Regions from separate parts of the Homo sapiens genome. Here all the other regions are linked to region 3. The links come from fine-mapping of genetic effects on gene expression. Tissue or cell type: whole blood. Region 3 holds a variant in brackets; each other region holds the start of a gene. Each region is shown on its reference strand, or each on the opposite one.

The links. PIP is the estimated chance that this variant, and not a neighbour inherited with it, causes the effect.
Region 1: FHIP2A starts here. The variant in region 3 is the best candidate, but not a certain one, in a credible set for the expression of FHIP2A in whole blood (TOPMed, PIP 0.89).
Region 2: it holds the start of CTNNB1, and the variant in region 3 is fine-mapped to the expression of CTNNB1 in whole blood (TOPMed, PIP above 0.99).
Region 4: MACROH2A1 starts here. The variant in region 3 is fine-mapped to the expression of MACROH2A1 in whole blood (TOPMed, PIP 0.90).

What each region holds. Positions count from the first base shown.
Region 1 is chr10:114,819,888-114,824,539 of GRCh38, forward strand. It overlaps FHIP2A (FHF complex subunit HOOK interacting protein 2A), which reads left to right and starts at 1,893. Exons shown (of 17, transcript NM_020940.4): 1 at 1,893-2,236. The coding sequence starts at 2,192. LOC124902508 (translation initiation factor IF-2-like) reads right to left here and starts at 3,061. Exons shown (of 2, transcript XM_047426127.1): 1 at 1,386-3,061. The coding sequence starts at 2,214. The coding sequence ends at 1,609. RefSeq lists silencers at 1,642-1,951, 1,962-2,311, 2,372-2,591 and an enhancer at 2,297-2,797.
Region 2 is chr3:41,196,566-41,201,217 of GRCh38, forward strand. CTNNB1 (catenin beta 1) reads left to right here and starts at 2,940. Exons shown (of 15, transcript NM_001904.4): 1 at 2,940-3,105. RefSeq lists silencers at 2,341-2,800, 3,231-3,350 and enhancers at 2,643-3,589, 2,931-2,990, 3,701-3,810.
Region 3 is chr1:158,838,594-158,843,245 of GRCh38, forward strand. It overlaps MNDA (myeloid cell nuclear differentiation antigen), which reads left to right. Exons shown (of 7, transcript NM_002432.3): 2 at 3,541-3,825. The coding sequence starts at 3,561. It also overlaps a transcript of OR6N1 not described here. Among named protein-coding and RNA genes, the nearest start is that of MNDA, 9.6 kb to the left of the region's middle. The variant C/T (reference allele first, on the strand shown) is at 1,929.
Region 4 is chr5:135,396,503-135,401,154 of GRCh38, forward strand. It overlaps MACROH2A1 (macroH2A.1 histone), which reads right to left and starts at 2,729. Exons shown (of 9, transcript NM_138610.3): 1 at 2,560-2,729. RefSeq lists silencers at 2,065-2,124, 2,435-2,604, 2,615-3,074 and enhancers at 2,975-3,480, 3,481-3,986.

The DNA.
Region 1 (4,652 bases), not on the chromosome of region 3:
CAGAATTTGGTAAGGGGCACAAAACAACAGAGGATGCCTCCAGCATTCTGGGGGTAGTACGTAGAAAATTAAGGTCGTATTTATCTGCCAAGGAGCACCGCAGGGATATAAACCACAAAAACAGGAGGGAAAAGAAGCCCAGTTAAGATCTCCTCCTTAATTCCTGATTTCTGGCCCTATTATTTTGCTAAATACCACTACCACAACTCAGAACAAGTATAAGTGTCTGTGCATCTCTTACTAGGGACTGGGCACTGTTAAAGTGTTTTACATATATTAATTAATTCCCACAACAACCTCAAGAGGTAGGTACTGTTCTCCCCTTTTGACATATAAGCAAATTAAAACACAAAGAAGTTAAATAACTTTCCACTGTGGGTGGCAGAGCTGGGACTTAGGCTACCCAGCCCCAGAGCCTGGCCAGTTACCACCACTCCATATGACAGCCACCTTTTCTCTGTTCCATGAATCAATTACAGATATATATACGTGTGTGTGTGTATACATGTATATATACGTATGTGTATATATACGTTTGTGTATGTATAAACGTATGTGTGTGTATACATGTATGTGTGTGTGTGTGTGTGTGTGTGTGTGTGTGTGTGTGTATTTTTTTTTTTTTTTTTGAGATGGAGTTTTGCTCTTGTTGTCCAGGCTGGAGCGCAATGGCGCAACCTTGGCTCACTGCAACTTCCGCCTCCCGAGTTCAAGGATTCTCCTGCCTCAGCCTCCCAAGTAGCTGGGATTACAAGCATGTAATCCCATTACACCACCACGTTCGGCTAATTTTTTTTTTTTTTTTTTTTTTGTATTTTTAATAGAGACGGAGTTTCACCATGTTGGCCAGGCTGGTCTCGAACTCCTGGCCTCAAGTGATCCTCCCGCCTTTGCCTCCCAGAGTGCTGAGATTACAGGCGTGAGCCACCGCGCCTGGGCCAGATACGTATTTTCAGCACTGGTTGTGCAAAACTCACTCCCCACCTCATCTTAAGAACTTAATGAACCTTTTGGTAAAACGCCAATACCAGCATAAAACAAATTTCTTCAGGATACAAATATTTTCATAATTTGTATTAACTCAACCTAAACTTTACCAGCCTGAACTGCTTCTTCAAGGCTTGACTAATACACTGTTAGGGAGTATTTTAAGCAGCCTCCACCCAAGTGCTTACCTTGTAGCTCTATTTATCTGCCTTAGGCATTTACTGGACTCCTTTCAGATTCTTTCCCTCGCTAATGTTTTCCGGTATCATCTGATAACTGAATAGAAAATGCTGTTCTGAATCACTACACCTCACTATCAACCATATCACAAATAAATTATGTTATATATTATATATAAATATTATAATGGGCTATTTAAACTAAGCCAGCCGTCTTACCATGTGCTCATGTGGGATTTCCTGTTTCAATGTTGAATAATAATATATTTTAAAGTTAGCAAAGCCATTTCACCTGCAGTCGTTGATTTCTTCAAAATCTGAGCATTTAAATCCATTGCCAATGTTTGCTTAAAGAACACTGTTTTCTTAACGAGTCTTCCAAATCGGTCCTTACAGGAAGAACCTCTGAATGCTATACGCATATATGGACGGCTGCGTGTCCCTACAAAGTCAGCCTGTTACTTCCACTGGAGAAACAAAACTCTTGAGAATCGCTGAGCTGTAAAAATGTTAGAAAGCCGGTGTCCCAGGCGCCCTGAGAAAGCCGGGAGAGGGCGGTGGCTGCCCACAGGCCGCCTCCAGCCCCGCGCGAGGCCGAGGCCTCAGCGCGCCCCCCGCCCCCGCGGCGCCTAGCGGCCCCGCCGCAGGGCAGGCCTGGCCGGGCCTCCCCGGGCTGCGGCGGCGCCCCCTGCAGGCCGCGGCGGGCAGAGCGGGGGGAAGGAACCCGAGCCGGGCTGCCACCGTGTCCCAACCGGTGCCGCCGCCGGAGCTTCTCCGGGCCCCGAGTCCTCGCCGAACGCCCTCCTCGCCGCCCGCCGCGTCCCGGCGCCCTCCGGAGCCGCCGAGCCGCCCGCGCACACCTGAAGCGGCCGGGCCAGGCCCTGCCTCGATCCTCAGCTCGTCCTCCCCGCCCCGCACCGGCCTTCACTCTGGAGCGGCCCCGGCAGCCGCAGCAGGGGCGGCGGCGGCGGATCGAGGAGCTCTCCAGGTCGTCCCGGGAGAGGCTGCTGCAGTCCCGGGACAGGATGTTCTCCAAGTTCACCTCCATCCTGCAGCACGCCGTGGAGGCGGTAAGGCCGCGGGCTGCGGGCGCACGGCAGGCCGGGGATGGCGGCGGCCTACGCTCCCCGGCGGCCTCGGGGACAAGCCGGGCGGCCTTGGCCCGGCCCTCGGCGGCCCTGTCCCCGGTTGGGGTGAGGCCCCAGGCGGGCGCCCTGGGCGGCCGCCGGGTCGTGGGGGCGCCCGGGGCCTCGGGCCTGGCTCTGCGGGGGTCCCGTCGGTCCCTGGCTGCCCCAGGCCGGCAGTCCCTGCCCTCCTCCAGGAGCCGGGGCGGGGGTGCCGGGGAGGACCTGGCCGCCCAACGCCGCTCGGTGGTCGCCTCATTCCTCTGATGGGGCCGGGGGTTCGGGGAGCACCTGGCGGGGTCGCAGAGAGCTCCCCCGGGCTCCCTTAACGTTAACCTTCTCCGGAAAAAAAGTGGTCAGCGTTGAGCAAGACAAAAGAAACGAGCAAGCACCGCTTGGGCTTGGTTCTGTTTTGTTTTGGTTTTCGGGGGTAGAGGTGGGAGAGGCATGGTCTCGCTGTGGGGCGTCCCTGGCGAGGGAGCCGCCGACCAGCCCCCGGGTTGCTGGCTTTTGCTTTCTTGGGCCTGGAGGCCGAACTCAGCTGAACCTTATGTATTGATCTGAAATAGGAGTTTGGAGGGTCCAGTCGAGTTTGCTTTCGACAGCTTCCAAGCTCACCGAGCCCAGAGACCATCTGTTTCCTTTCTTGTCTAGTTCTCTTCCTGGACACTCTTCGTTTATCCTGCAATTGTACTCTCCTTTGAGGGTTTTAGACACCAGCATAGAGACAGTATTCAAGTATCCTAGTAGACTAATAAGTGAAAAGAAACTAAAAAGAAAATGCCTTGTCACTGTTCTAGTAAGAATGCTAGTTGCTTCACTTGTTTACTTTATTCTGGGAGAACTGCCCAAATTGAAAAATGCATTCTGTGCAGAAACAATTACTTTGCTAATTTTTAACATGACATTCTCTTCCTATGTTCATATTATGTGATAGGACACTTTAAAATGTACACTTTAAAAATGTCAGATACAACAATGATTTTTTATGGGCAGGCAAAAATGGAGTTTTTGCCTTCAGTAATAAAAACAAACTTTAGTACAATTGTTATTTAAGTGATACATGAGAAGCGTTAAAAAATTTAGCTCTAGGGCAAGCTCTTGGGAAAATGTATCAAACAGGAAAAACAGGGTTTCATAAATGTAGAGCAGTATTACACGGAGGGAAATGACAGTGGTAGACTTCAAGACAACTTTTAGTTTTTACTTGCTTATACACACTCTACTTTTGTTGAAAGAATTTAACTGCAGTTTATTAAAACATTTAAATTTTGTTTTCTTTAAAAATACCAAGAATCATTTAATTTTATTTATTTATTTATTTATTTATTTTTTGAGACCGAATCTCATTCTGTCACCCAGGTTGGAGTGCAGGGGTGTGATCTCAGGTCACTGCAACCTCCGCCTCCCGGATTCAAGCGATTCTCCTGCCTCAGCCTCCCTAGTAGCTGGGATTACAGGCACCCGCCACCACACACGGCTAATTTTTTTTTTTTTTTTTAGTAGAGATGGGGTTTCACCATGTTAGCCAGGCTGCTCTCGAACTCCTGACCTCAAGTGATCGCCCGCCTTGGCCTCCCAAAGTGCTGGGATTACAGGTGTGAGCCACCACACCCGGCCCGAATCATTTTAACCTTGAATATATGAAATACTTGGGAACACTTAATGAGATACTTGGTAATCAAAATTTACTATATTGCAGTCAGCTGTCTTATCCGTAGGCTCTGCACCTGTGATTTAACCAAACTCAAGTAAAAAAATATTTGAGGGGGAAAAAAATTCTGCAGAGTTCCAAAAAGCAAAACTTGAATTTGCCATATTCAAGTACTGCCTTGAATCCATGTGAATGAAGTGATGTGTAGGCATTGTATTAGGTATTAGAAGCAATCTAGAGATGATTTAAAGAATACAGGTATGCATAGGTTATATGAAAATATGCCATTTTATAACAGGGACTTGAACATCCTCAGATCTTAGGGGTAGGAAGAGATGTCCTGGAACTAGTCCCCTACAGATACCAACTATATTTATATCCTTTACCCATCAGGCTAGTATTTACAGAAATAAGTACTTAGAAAAAGAAAGACGGCTTTCCTGCTCTCCTAGTAAAGGCTCATTTTTATCCGGAGGCCTGTGTTTTCTTGTCCTCGTTATCTTTTTATAATTGTATATATTAGCATCTGCCAAATTATCTGGCTCCTGCTCTGTAATATCCTTAGCCTACTTTGCTGAGGTTAGTGAGAAAAAGTTAGAGTGGCTTGTGTTCACCTAGTCCTGAAATTAATGCATTGCATTTAGAAGTGTAATGTTTTCATTTGCTTAGACCTAATGTTTTCATTTGTGGCACCACCCATCTTATCTT
Region 2 (4,652 bases), not on the chromosome of region 3:
TCTACCGTTTCTGCTTCTTTTTAAATAGGGTGGATTAACAGTTACAATTTTACATTAATTTAAGAGACTTAATCAAATGGAGCCAGTCATCCGTTTCCCTCTCTCTAAGGGAAGCTCATTGTCTTAGATGCTCAATAAATGTTTAATTAATGGATTTGATAGAGTTAAGTATCCTAAAAGTGAACGAACCTTCTTTACAATACTGGCATATTTCTGTGATTCATATTTCTGTCTGAAGTGTGAAATAATCTTGGCTTTTTTTTTTTTTTTTCCTCTCTTAAAGGTAATCAAAAGCCTCTGTTTTAGCGAAGGGATGCCTTACATTCAGGTTCAGTCTACCACTGCTTTATATGCCAGTGGCCTGATAGCGTGAAAAGAAATATCTTCTCTTTTAAACTAGCTGGAGACACTTTTGTTTCTAAGAACACAGCCTAAAAATTAGAACCACTTGTCTGTCGCCATTTTATAAAATTAATTTATGTCAAACCCGGGGTGACTGGCTCTAGAAGGAAAAGACATAAAACAGATAACCAACTGTTTTTATGAAATGTATTGTCCAAGGTCAATTCAAAAAAATTATTTAACAAAATTACTTATTTTACCAAACTCATGTATCTTGATAATGTATTTTTCTTTGATTTAATGATAGTGTTTGTCTTCATTTCACAGAAGTTATTCATCTCTTATTTTTGGTGAGACAACTAGAACAATTTCTGCTTTATGAAACATGCAAATAAAAATTAGGAGCAATGTTAAATTTAACTAACTTGGTTTAATGCTAGTCAACCAGTAATTCTTCAGTACACTTAATATGATGGGAAAAACAGCATGCTGCATTGTTGCAAATTTTACATTTTCTTTAATAAAATGTATTTGTTTACGGTGTCAGTAGGGATTAAAAATCATAATTCTAAATTTAAAGTATTTAAATTATAGAAAAATGATTCCATTATTTTGGTAATGGAACAGAGAAATACAAATATAGAAACGTTTTTATCCTTTAGATCTTCTAATGGTGCAGATATTTCTTAACCAATTTCAAGAGTGCCTTATTCAAAAACAAAAAACCTGCACATAGAAAAAGCAAACATGTTTTTTTAAAAAAAGCCCTGTAAAAGTGGTTAATCTGTCGTCTGATTTTCAATGTATGACTTTAATCAATTGCATATTCCTTAATTCTGCAAATGACAATTAAAATTAGGAATCAGTACCTGAAAACGCCATTTATACTTTTGAGTTTATATTAGAAACACGGTTTTGATGAAATACCTTTTTCGGTTCAATCTTTTTGAATTGTGACCACAACCAATAGCTACACTTAGATTCTACAGAATTAGTAGGAAAGATACAAATGAGAAGGTCTTTCTAGACAATGGATCTCACTGAACATCATCTTAGTGTGTAGACTTTTTCCACTGCAGTGGCCCACATGTGCTATGGTGACAGACGGCAGTTGGCATTACCACTTATATAGTAAAATATCTTTAAGACAAAAATAAAAGTTATTTAAAGAATACGCTGGCCCTGAAACATGAGCTGTGCCTTAAACTACATATCCTACCTCCATGAGTGAATGAATAAGTGGGTTTTCCGCCTGCATCTATGTGTTAAGACCTATTGTTTGCTTGTATTAATTGTAGTCCTGGGATAAAAGCACAGAGGTAACTTTCACTGCTGCTTTTTGTACTCTCTCCAATGTTTTGGAGGAAAAATAAGCACAAACAATAGCCTAGAGAAACTGAATCGATCATACTTGTTGCAGCTTCGACAAACGTCAATTTTGCTGCATTAGAATGGGAAACATTTTTCAGTCTATTGAAATGAATTACAAACGTTTTTAAATAGAAAATTAGTTAAAAAATTGGAGGCTGCTTAATCGATAGCTTTCTCTATAAACATACTTGGATTTCACAAATAAGTAATACCGTAAAAATCTTCTTCTCCAAAGAAAAATCCCCACAAATAAATCTATTGATACCTAGTGACAAGTGGAACCAGATAAAAATGGAATCTATAAGAATTAACCTAATTGACAGCGCTCTGGAGCTAATCCATTTCCATTAGTTATTTGTTCACAGTAGGTACTCCTAAGGACTTGTTGAATTGCGGGCTTGGCGCCCGTTCTACGGAGAGTTCACAGCCTTCGTGAGTGGGGACAGAAGGCGGCTCGGCCCGGTGATTCAGGTCGAAATTCAAGCTGAACAGCCTGCTGAGAGGTGGGATCCACCATCCGGACAGTGGGGGGCTTTGGGGGTGCTGTGAGACTGGGCTGCGACCCAGGTCCAGCAGGGAGTGTGCGGCACAGACCACAAGGTCGGCGAGGCCCCCTAACCCGCGCCCGGCCGGGAACCCGCAGACCAGCGACGGGGCAGCTGCGGGGCCAGGAGCGCCCCAAGACGGGCGGGCGCTGAACCCGAGCCCCTGCCGCCGCCCTGGCCCCGAACTTCCGCCCTCCCAGGACCTGTCCCGGCCGCCCCGAGCGGTACTCGAAGGCCGGGGCCGAGATGCCACCTTCCGCAGGCCGCGGGAAAGGCGCGCCGAGTCCTGCAGCTGCTCTCCCGGTTCGGGAAACGCGCGGGGCGGGGGCGTCGGGCTTGGGACAGGGGAGGATACCAGGGCCACCTTCCCCAACCCAGGCCGCGGGGGCCCGGCCTCCCCGATGCAGACCACAGCGCCCTCACGGGCTGCCCTCAGGCCGCGCAGCGGGCAGCCGCCAGCCGTCACCCCGGGGAGCGTCCGTGGGGTGCCCAGGCACCCCACCCCGGCCCGGGGCGCTCAGACGGCAGCAGACTGCTGGGCGGCGCGGGGACTACTTTCCACCGCCCCCTCGCGCCCCGCCCCTTGTCCTCGCGCGGCGGAACGCTCCGCGCTGCGCCGGTGGCGGCAGGATACAGCGGCTTCTGCGCGACTTATAAGAGCTCCTTGTGCGGCGCCATTTTAAGCCTCTCGGTCTGTGGCAGCAGCGTTGGCCCGGCCCCGGGAGCGGAGAGCGAGGGGAGGCGGAGACGGAGGAAGGTCTGAGGAGCAGCTTCAGTCCCCGCCGAGCCGCCACCGCAGGTCGAGGACGGTCGGACTCCCGCGGCGGGAGGAGCCTGTTCCCCTGAGGTGCTTGGGCGCTCCTTTCCTTATCCTTCCGGGGCTGCTCCCGCTTCCTCTCGGAGCCAAACTTCGTAGCAGGCGCGCGGTCCGGGCGGCGGGCTGGGCGCAGCCGGGAGGCCTGGGGTTGGGAGCGGGGAGCTCAGGTGGGGGACGGTGAGGGTGGGCCGCGCCCGGGGCGCGGAGGGCGGCGGCCGGGCCCGGGTTCCGGTCGCGCTGCCTCTCTGGGGCCCTGGGGGCATCGCTTGCGGGGAGGGGGCGCCGCGGGGGCGCGTACAGGAGCCCGGATGGCAGGCGGGGTGGGGGTGGGGGTGGGGGTCTGTGGTTTCCGTCCGGGGCTCTGGCCTTGGCCGAGTTTGGGGGAGGGACCCGGTGCCTCGGGATGCGCCGGGCCCTGGGTGGGGGGCGGGGTGGGGACGGGGGGCTCCGCCTTCTCAGCTCTTGCGGCGAGTTGGGGTTCGGGCGCTGAGGCAGAGACGCCACCCTAAGTCCCATCAGTCCTGGGGATCGGACCAGTGGACTTTCTCTTAAGATTTCCTCTTTCATTCTTAAGAATAGAAGTGTTATTATTTTTTTTAATGCCCTGGCTATGTGAGTTTGAATCGAAGCAACTTTAAACCTTAGAGCAACTAAACTCTAAGTGCAGCGGGTGCGATGCGTCAGTAGGGTGAGCACATAAAAAATCCATGTCTTGCACCTGTATTTTAGCGTACTATGCAGGTGAGTGAAAGCAGTGGATAATGTACTGGGAGTCTTATGGATTTATGGTAGTGGGTATGAGACCCTGGTGAAATAAGGGGGTGGAGGAAGGCGAAGGTGATGGCTTACTGTTTCTTACCAAGTGAACTGCAGGATTCAGCCTCTGACTCAGACCGCTTCGAGAATTTTGTTCGTAGAAATAATTTAAATTTATTCAAATAGTTTGATGGCAGCTAAAATTGAATTATAGAGCACGTTTTCTTTTCAGCGGAGTGAATTTTTCCTTCGCTCCAAAGCTGGCCAAATGGAATTCAAGCATTGCAACTTCTTTCAGTGTTTTGTCTGGAGAGAGGACTTTGAACCGAGACTTTTCGAAGTTAAGTTCCTATAGCCTGCTTCTGAATCTGCCAAGCTTGAAAGCTTTGGCAGTTGGGTGTATGTAGTTGTTGCCTTCGTTCTCTTCCCTTTTGGAGGGAGCGTTGTCTCCTACTTTGTATCTTCCAGACATCTGTGGTCTTCCCCCCACCCCTCGAGTTTGTGAGTGGTGAATGAAGAAAGACTAGGCTGCTGGTATGCAGAGGTCGGCAAAAGGAAATCGAGGAGTGGTTTTAGTGAAATGAGAGCTTTGTATCATGAATAATGGTGGCTTAGGCTAGACATCAACTTGAAGAGACGGCAGCATTTCCTTTCATAAAGTCTAGGCTAATGTTTTTCAGATCGCTAAGTTGTAGTTTGTCTGGAATTTAGGAAGCCATTTCAGTATTTGTCACTTGGTGAACGAACATTCAATACCTTCAGATGTCTTCGTGTTGACTTGTATTCATCCTAAGAAATAGTAAATATAGTCTCAAGTGTTA
Region 3 (4,652 bases):
GTTTGGTTTCTTATATCTGTACATTTAGTCTTTTCTCAAATTTGGAAAGTTTTCAGTCCTTATTTACTCAATAATTTTGTTATTCCTTTCTCTTTTCCATCACCTTTTCAGACTTACATAATGCATATATTGTCCCACTTGATGAACTTTATAAGTTCTGTTCACTTTCCTTTATATCTTTTAAAAAAGTTTGTTCTTCAGCCTTGATAATTACACATGACCTGTCTAAAAGCTAACTGATTCTTCTGCCTATTGGTGTGGGCTGAGGAACCCCTCTAGTGGATTTTACAATGCAGTCAATGTGTTTTTCAGCTTCAGAATTTATGGAATTTTTTCTGGTAATTTCTATTTTTTGTCTATTCTCATTTTTTATTAATCATTTTCCTGATTTTATTTAGTTGTCTCTACCTATTTTCCTTTAACTCATTTATCATATTTAAGAGTGCTGTTTTAGTCTTTGACAAGAAAGTCTGAGGGCTGTGTTTCTTTAGAGAAAGTTTGTGGAGATTCATTTTTTTCTTTAAAATTGACCATGTTTACCTGTTTCTTTGTATACCTTTTGTTGAAAACTGGACATTTGTAAAAACAGCCCCCTCTCAACCATTGTTAACTGGCACCATATTCAGGGGAGGACTTTCACTCTTCAGCTAAGTATGAAATATAAACGTTCTCTGAGGCCTATATGGACGTGTGTCTTGCCTGGGCTTATGTGTGTGCATTTTTTGTAATTCTCTCATATACACACTGCTTTTAATCTGTAATTTCCCTAAGAGCCACACCTGCCTCTTTTCATGACCTTAGATGTTCTACTGTATTCCTCTATCCATAATCTCTTGCCTTCTGGCACCCAGGGAGTAGCAGATCCCATGAAGCTCTCACAAGCTGGAGCACCCACCACTACTTTTTGCAGCCTCAAATCTGACATTTAAACTATGCCACCATTTCCATCAATGCTCCAAGTCATGTGAAGCAGTTACTAGTCCCTCAAGGAACCTACAGAGAAGCTATAATGTTGCAAAGCAGTTCCACACTTTTCCTTCTATTCCAAAGGAAGAATGAGGAATTAGGAAGTTTCCTCCTGATCACGTCACACCATTCAAGGGAGAAAGTTAAACAGGGACAAAGAAAAACACCTAGAAGTTTTCCACTATTTTGAATGTGGCTTAATCTTGGTTTGGAATTTCCTTTGTTGCAACCAATTCTTAACAGCTGAAAACATTAGTTTGGTTCATAAATTGTTCTTTATTTGGTGTTTCCATGGTATAATGAAAGTCTGGAACGTCCTTGTCTGCAATCTTGCTAATGTCACTCTCAGTGAGAAGAGAACAATTTTTTAAACCATAACATTCAAATAACATTTTGACCAGATACAAAATTTTAGTTTGAAAAATATTTTTGCTTGAAAACTGATTCACAGCACTTCACCTGAAACCCCTGGGACAACTCTGATTTTTAATTCATTTTTTTAGGGGGGGATTTTAGAAAGACTACTTAATGCATACATTGTATGTAGGCACTGCAAGTGTCCCAGTAGAGGTAATATCAACATCCTAATATCAAATGCATTAAGAGTTCTTCAACAAATCATGCCACTATTCACATTAAAGTGAGATGAATAAGGAAGATTAAAAATAGCCACTGTATTAGTTCCTTCTCACGCTGCTATGAAGAAATACCTGAGACTGGGTAATTTATAAAGAAAAGAGATTTGATTTACTCACAGTTCCGCACGGCTGGGGAGTCCTAAGGAAACTTACAATCATGATGGAAGGCACCTCTTCACAGGGTGGCAGGAGAGAGAATGAGTGCTAGCAGGGGAAATGCCTGATGTTTATAAAACCATAGATCTCATGAGAACTTGCTCACTATCACAAGATGATATTTCAAGATGAGATTTGGGTTGGGACATAGCCAAACCATATCAGCCA[C/T]GTATTACTTCACATTATATCTCTAATTTGCAAGATGATTTTGCTACCACACTTCCCTGCTAACTCTCATCCCTTCCCAAGCCCCCAAACCGCACAAATCTTTTCATCCTTCAGTATCTTCTTAGGTTTTAAAATTGCAGACATATAATTATGGATCAGTACTATGTAAAAATTACTTTCTTAACCTGCTGCAGACTGTTCAATCAGATTATTTAATCTTTGTAGGTGTTCTACTCAGTATTTCTGGAAGATTTTATCATTTTGCTTTTAATATTCTTTGGCTTTACTATATGTGCCCATGTGTGAAATTTCTCTTTATCTGATAGGTTTAAACACAGGAACACTCATGTTCTCCCAAAAGAGAACAATTTACAGCCCTAAGAATTTGGACACTCTAATTATATAAAAGTTGCACAAACACATGGTCACCAACCTAAAGGAATACCTATAAATTTAAACAGAAAATTGGAATATACGTTAGGAACTGAATGCCCTTAGGTAGTACACAAGGGGTTAAAGAGGCACACATAAGTGAGAGTGGGACCACAACAGCTCGCAGAAGATAAAGCCTCAATTAAGCATTAAAAACTCTAAGGAAGTATTCAGAGGAAGAAAACTGGGAATGCTTTCCCAGATAGCAGGAAGGGAATTAGCAGTAAGAAGACCTGAAAAAGAAAGACATATTGTGTATTTCTAGAGCATAAGGTATAAGAAATTCAAAAGTAACAGACACACACAAAAAGAAAGATACAGTTTATGCAAGGCCTTTCAAGTCATGCTGAGTAGAAATCTATACTAATAAAAATCAAAACTCATTGAAGGATTTCAGGAAAAATAGAGTCATGTCTTTATCCATAAAGAAACCTACTTGGTTGTCTGACAGAAACCTTTTAGTAAAAGTAAGACTAGTTGGAGGTAAATAATTGACTGTAAAAAACAAATGTGCAAAAAATAAATGCTGCAATTCCACACTAGAGAGCAGATAGGAGGATGGCAAAATGACAATTTTATAGATGCATAGGACACAGAGAACAAGTTCTAAGCCCCAGGGAGAAAAAGTGCTAACGAGAGCTGATTAGGGAGAGCCAAGAAGGACTAGAGTCCATTCCACAACTCAGAACTGTAGTGCTGTGGCAGAAGGTTATTCACATAAGGTGAGTGGCTGCAGCCCATTTATACTTAGGCCACTTTGGTCATAGTGGATGACCAGGAAGAATCAGGGAAGAATCAGGGAAGAATCAGGAACCAAGAGGTAGGCATTGAGGGATAGGCTCAGGCCCCAATAAAATATCAGAAGAGGAACCAGGGACTTTGACACCACAAAACCCATACTATAAATACTGCAACAATTACCTGTTTCCAAACATCATTTCACCACATACACCTCTGTCCCAACTTATCAACATTAAAAGGGAAGAACTTCACTGAACCTCCTAATAAAGCAAGTCTTGATCCATTGTTCACAGTGACATATCTGGTAACTTAGTCCCTTTTTCTTATACGCATCCAAGGACAACATTTTGGCCTGGGACACTCACTCACAAAAGCATATCTCATTTTTTAAAATTGTCTGCATAAATGTGTAATGTTGTGTGTCATTTTTACTTTATAGGCCAAGCTATAACATCAGAAATGGTGAATGAATACAAGAAAATTCTTTTGCTGAAAGGATTTGAGCTCATGGATGATTATCATTTTACATCAATTAAGTCCTTACTGGCCTATGATTTAGGACTAACTACAAAAATGCAAGAGGAATACAACAGAATTAAGATTACAGATTTGATGGAAAAAAAGTTCCAAGGCGTTGCCTGTCTAGACAAACTAATAGAACTTGCCAAAGATATGCCATCACTTAAAAACCTTGTTAACAATCTTCGAAAAGAGAAGTCAAAAGGTAATAGAGAAAACCTTGCACATAGCTACTCTGCCTTGAGTCTCCCCAGTCTTCAGTAGAACCCCACCTTGGTCATAGCTGGTACATCCCTTTTCCAATTTATAACTCAGCAGTCATGGGGATGTTGGCACCTCAGAGACTGACCAGTTGGCAATTTAGAACATTCTGTTTCATATGAAAGAGATTGATATATTTAGAAGAATGTATTTGAGGTAAGGATAAAAAACCAAAGACAGGGATTTATGAGACGGTGAGTGTTTCAGTAAATCAAAAATGTCAGAAAATGAAAAAAAAAGCTACTTTAAAAAATGTGTTTTATTTGAAATATTTATATTTAACCAATTTATGCAGCAATAGTTCTATTAAGAGACGTGTAGAATTTTTCCACTTAATAAATCACTGTTCTTTTTTTAATTCAAAAGCCAATATTAGCACTTTGCCACATTACAATTCAGATCATATTTCCTTTCAGGTCATATTTCTGTCATTTGAACAGATATTGCACAGAACATGACCAGCCTGTCAGCATCATGAAAGCCTTAGATATTTAAAAGAAATGGTAGGAGAACAAGACTGAGAAAGGGTTGATTGAGGCACATGGAGTTCACAGGAAAGGAAGCATGTTCTCACTGCAAAGGGGAGGAGTGAGTAAAGCACTGAGGAGAATGAGACAGTGCCTATGCCTACCATGCTGCTGTTGGCCTCCTAGGAGCCAGGCTGGGTTAATGCAGTAGAGGTAACAGGCAAATCCGAACTCTCATGCAGGAGCTGACAGCAGGTAATATTGAAACTGCCTCAGCTGTCTTAGATAAGCTATTCCACTCTAG
Region 4 (4,652 bases), not on the chromosome of region 3:
TCCCCACATGACCTCTGTTCTTTTCTTCTAAGATGCACACATGGGGTTCCCCAGGCCTCAAACACTTGTCCCCATCTGCCCTCCTTTGCCCAGCCATCTCCTGCTTGACCTTTCCAAGCCAGATAAGGGCTCACTCCTGGCTAGGTTACTGTACCTGCTGGGGGGCTACGTGGGGCCTTTTGCACTGATTTTACAACAGCTACTTGCCTGCCTTCTCCCAAAGTCAGCTCCCCCAAGGTAGGGGCTAGGCATTTCTTAATCACGGCTGTGTCCCCAGTGCCTGAACAGGAGCTGATTCTCAGGAAATCTTTATGGAAAGACTCTGAGACACTGACCTGACAGGTTTGGTCCAAGCAAACAAGCTATACAACTCTTTGGAATGAAGAGTTGACTCACTCAGGCTCACTTGTAAGCACTGAGGCAGGGCCCAAAAGACCTCTAAACCTACAGAATATGGGAAGGACCCACAGAGATCTGGGCCCCAATCACTCCTGCCCCTTCCCAGCCCATGTTCTAGGAATGGGGCTCTGAAAAGGCTGTCACAAATCCTTGGGGACACTCAAATAAAACCAGAGGCTGTTGCAGTTCTGATGAACAACACATATAGAGTCTTGTTGGGTTCTTCGGCTTGAGGTTTTCAGTTTATGCTTTTATTTAAATAAATCTCCTTTAGGTGACTTGGGGCCGCATTAGCTCTGAAGGCAGGTCCCAGAACACATGCCCTCTGAGCTTCTCAGTGGGGAAGGAATGCGAGGCGCTCCTCAAGTTCGCCTCTCTCAGGGACCAGAAGAAACATCAGATGGAGATGTGTCACTCCCTGACACTGGCCCATTTGGTAAAAACTAAACCAGTGGCATGGTTGTATACTAGAATGTCACATGTGAAGTTCCAGACAATTCTTAAAGTTTAATAAAATGTGAGTTAAATTATGCCTCCTTCTAAAGGCCTGCCTCAAACAATTTTCATTTAGACAACCCTCTTAATGCCTTATCTAGGGATCAGCATTAACAATGGTGACAGATCGAAGCCAAAGAACAGACTGGAAAGATTTCTCTCTCCTTGTAAAACTAGAAGGGGGAAGAATTTGAAGTCTTTCAAGAGTTTTGTTGTGTTTAAGAAAAAATAAGTTTGAAAACATACTCATCCTCATCAGAGAGTCTCTTGTGCAAGACTGAGATGCTGCTGCCCAACTCTAGTTAAATGTGTACAATGGGTATTAATTCCAGTTGCAGGCAAGAGGTGTCCATTTCAGAGTTAACACCTCTGACAACAGGCTAGTAGCCTAAAGGTGGCCTGCAGTAGGTGAATTCCACCTAATTTACAACTCGAGTCTCCCATTCAAACCTAAGACTGTTAAAAAATGCCCGACTCCCTGGAGCAGGGAGCTTTGGAACAAAACACTTCCCTTACCCCCTACTTTAACGGTAAAACCTCAAACCACAAAGGTGGAAGAAAAGAGGGAAGCTAGCAGGAGTGCCCCCTCTAATTGTCTATTCTTATGTGCTGTTTACTGGGTCATTAAAATCTTACAAGGCCTTTATAGTCATTGTAATTGTTGAATTCAAGGTTTGTCCCAGTTGTTTGTACAGAAGTCTCTCACTTTGAAACTCAGAAACATTTCCCCTAACATCTTGTCTAAAAGAACCTTTCAAGCAATGTACTGACCAACTCCTTGAGTGATCTGTGGCCCCTGCAGGAGTGGGGGTAGGGAGCGCCATGTCGCACACCTGTTGTCAGGTGACACTGCCAGCAGCATCCTGCACACTCACCTCCCCACTCCACCCCACCCCCAGCGAGGCTCTTTCCTGCTGGCCTTCTCCACCCGGGGAAGCCTACAGCCTTCCGGAGTTACCTTTTAAAAAAAGCAAACCCTTCCTACCACAAAGCAAACAAAAGGCTGATACCGAGACAATCGGGAGCAGCGGGGGTTCCCGTGGCCCCTCTCCAGCCCATCCTTGGACCACTCCCCAACCCGGTCCCCCGCACCAGCCCGGCTTCAATCCCGCGAGTAGCCCCCGCCTTCCCCTCCCTGCAGATAGCGAGCCAGACGCCTACACCTCGGCCCCCCGGGGCTCGGGCCCGACTTATTGTGCCGGGGCCGGCAACTCGCGGGCCGGCGGGGGCCTCACCAAGTACAACTCTGCTCACAGCAGCTCCCGGGTGCCCAGGCCCAGACTGCCTAGCCAGCGCCGCGGGGCCTCCTGCGGCCTCGGGCCTGGCCCGTGAGCCCGCCCCAGGAAGGGTCGCCAGGGTAGGCGCCAGCACCGCTTTTTTCCCACAAAAGCGCCCAGGCGCGGGCAGGGGGATGCGTTTCGAAGAGAAGTTGGTTTCCAGGTTTCTTTTTTGAACAAAACCAAAGGGAATCCCGCGCGGCCCGACAAGGCCTGGGAGGACGTAGTGCACGCGCGAGGACCCGGCGTGGGCCACACCGAACCCGGCGGCCCGAGCCCGGCCCGCACCACACCGGTGCGCGCCAGGCCGGGCCGCTCCCGGGCACCCGCGGCCGGACCCGAGCGGCGGGGACAGGGAGTGCGGCAAGGGGGCCCGCGCGGCACTTACGCGGCGGCTCGGTGGCGGCGGCGGCAGCTGCAAGGTGTCTCGGCCTGAGCCCTCCTGGCCGCTCGCGCCTTTTCTCTCCGCGCTCCTCGCTGGCCCGCCCGCCTCTTCGCTTCCCGCCCGCGCGGCCCGCGCTCTCCCCCTCCGCCCGGCGCCGCTGCCGAGTGAACTGGAACCAGTCCTCGCGGCCGGCTTCCCACAATGCACAGCGCGCCGCTCGTCACATCCCTTCGCGGCCCCGAGCGTCCGGCCTCCGCGCCCGTGCCGCCCGGCGCCCCGGCCTTGACCCCGGGCCCGCGCCCTACCCGTTGACGCCGGCCGCTCTGCGCCCAGGCACCAGCCCGCACCCCGGACGCGAGGTCTGACCCATGACCCCGGGGACGCCCAGAGCCCAGTCCTTGGGAAGGGCCAGGCCCCTGGAGAGGAGCTTCTTCAGGGCGCGTCCCAGACTCTGCGTCTCGAGTGAACGCCTACTGTGTGCCTGGCTCTGAGCACGGGACTGTCGCTGCCACGGCATCTTTAGGAACCTTCCCACTAACCCAGTGGGAAGGCACAATGGCTGTTACCAGCGATCGCTCTTCCCTCCCCAGTCAATGCCAACTCCCCCCTGCCCCGCCTCAGAGACCCCGCTGTCTTTAGATACAGGCCACCGCCAAGCCCTGGTCTGCCCCAAGATCAATTACTGCGCACCCGGTTCCCCTGGGGTCCTTCAGTTAATCCTCCTCACCCCGAAGTCTGGAACCTGCCTTGCACATGGAAGCGGTTAGCTACTTCGCTTCAGCAAAAGTTCACTTTCGGACCCAAGTTGGGAATTACTAATGTAGACAGTGATTCCTTATCATCACACACGTTTTTTAAAAACTGCGGACAGGCCGAAAGAGGAGGAGCCGCCACAAAGCCCGCCACGTCTTCCTAAATTGGTTTACCGCCTGAAGGCATTGGTGCCCCATCCCGGGTACTTAAATGGGGGCCTGCCCTCTACTCCCCTCCCTCCAAAGTGTGGAGCCGGAAGCCACTTCTCCATCCAGCTGTGAACTAAATTTGGATAATAATACACATCCCTCAGGGTTGATGTGAAGTTTAAAGTGCCGCTACTGGGGATTATGGAGGTAATTAGAGACCCCCACCCCCACCCCCCAGTCCTCAGGCTGCGCGGGAATCGCAGCGGCAGTAACCTCCACCTCACCGGGATGCTTTACACCTTACTTTAAGAGTTTGCAAAACAATGTCCAATACCTGCCATTCATGCATTCGTTAATTCGATTAAGTACTGAGAACGTATTTTGTGTCATACATCGATTTGGGTGCTGGATATGAAACAGCCAAGAGAACAGGCAGAAATCTCTGCCCTCCTGTAGTTTGCAGTCTCGTGGGGGAAAGACAGACAAACGGGAGAATGTGTCAGAGGGTCTCCATGGGGTGGAGAAAAATAAGGCGGAGAAGGGGAATAGGAAGTGTGAGATAAGAGTGAGGCTCAAATACAAGAGAAGGCCTCTATGAGAAAGTAACATTTAAAGCCTGAAGAAATTGAGGGAGCAAGCCGTGTGGATGTCTGGGGAAGAACTGCGCCGAGCATGAGGAATAGCAAGTGCAAAGGCTGGGGTAGGAGTGTGTCCAAAATAGTCAAGACAGAGCGAGTGTGAGGTTGGAGTAGAATGGGTGAAGGGGAAAGTAACAGGAGATGAAGCTGGAAAAATGATGATGCTTATGATGCTTCTGGTCCCAAAACAAAGCATTATGGTTCTATGAGGATCTCCCGAAGAAAAGATGTCAGGAAAGGTGCAGAGACCCTCCCCCACACACCACATTGTTGTTCCATCCTTCTCTGTGCCTTTGGGCAAGGACTCTCCGTTCTGTAGGGACCACCAGGTGGAATTAAAGTCTACACTCCTCCAAGAGCTGATCTTGGGGCGGCCCCACCTCCATGCCCCTCTACAGCGTGCCATTCTCATAGAACACACTAGGACCTTTGTCCTCTGGAGCTGTTCAGTGCAGCAGCTCTGACCTCATCCTTCTCCAGAAGCCTCCACCTTCTCTCCCCTCTCTCCTCCTGCGCTTTGTGTGTCCTGTTCTTCCACTTCGGTGACCTGTCTCCT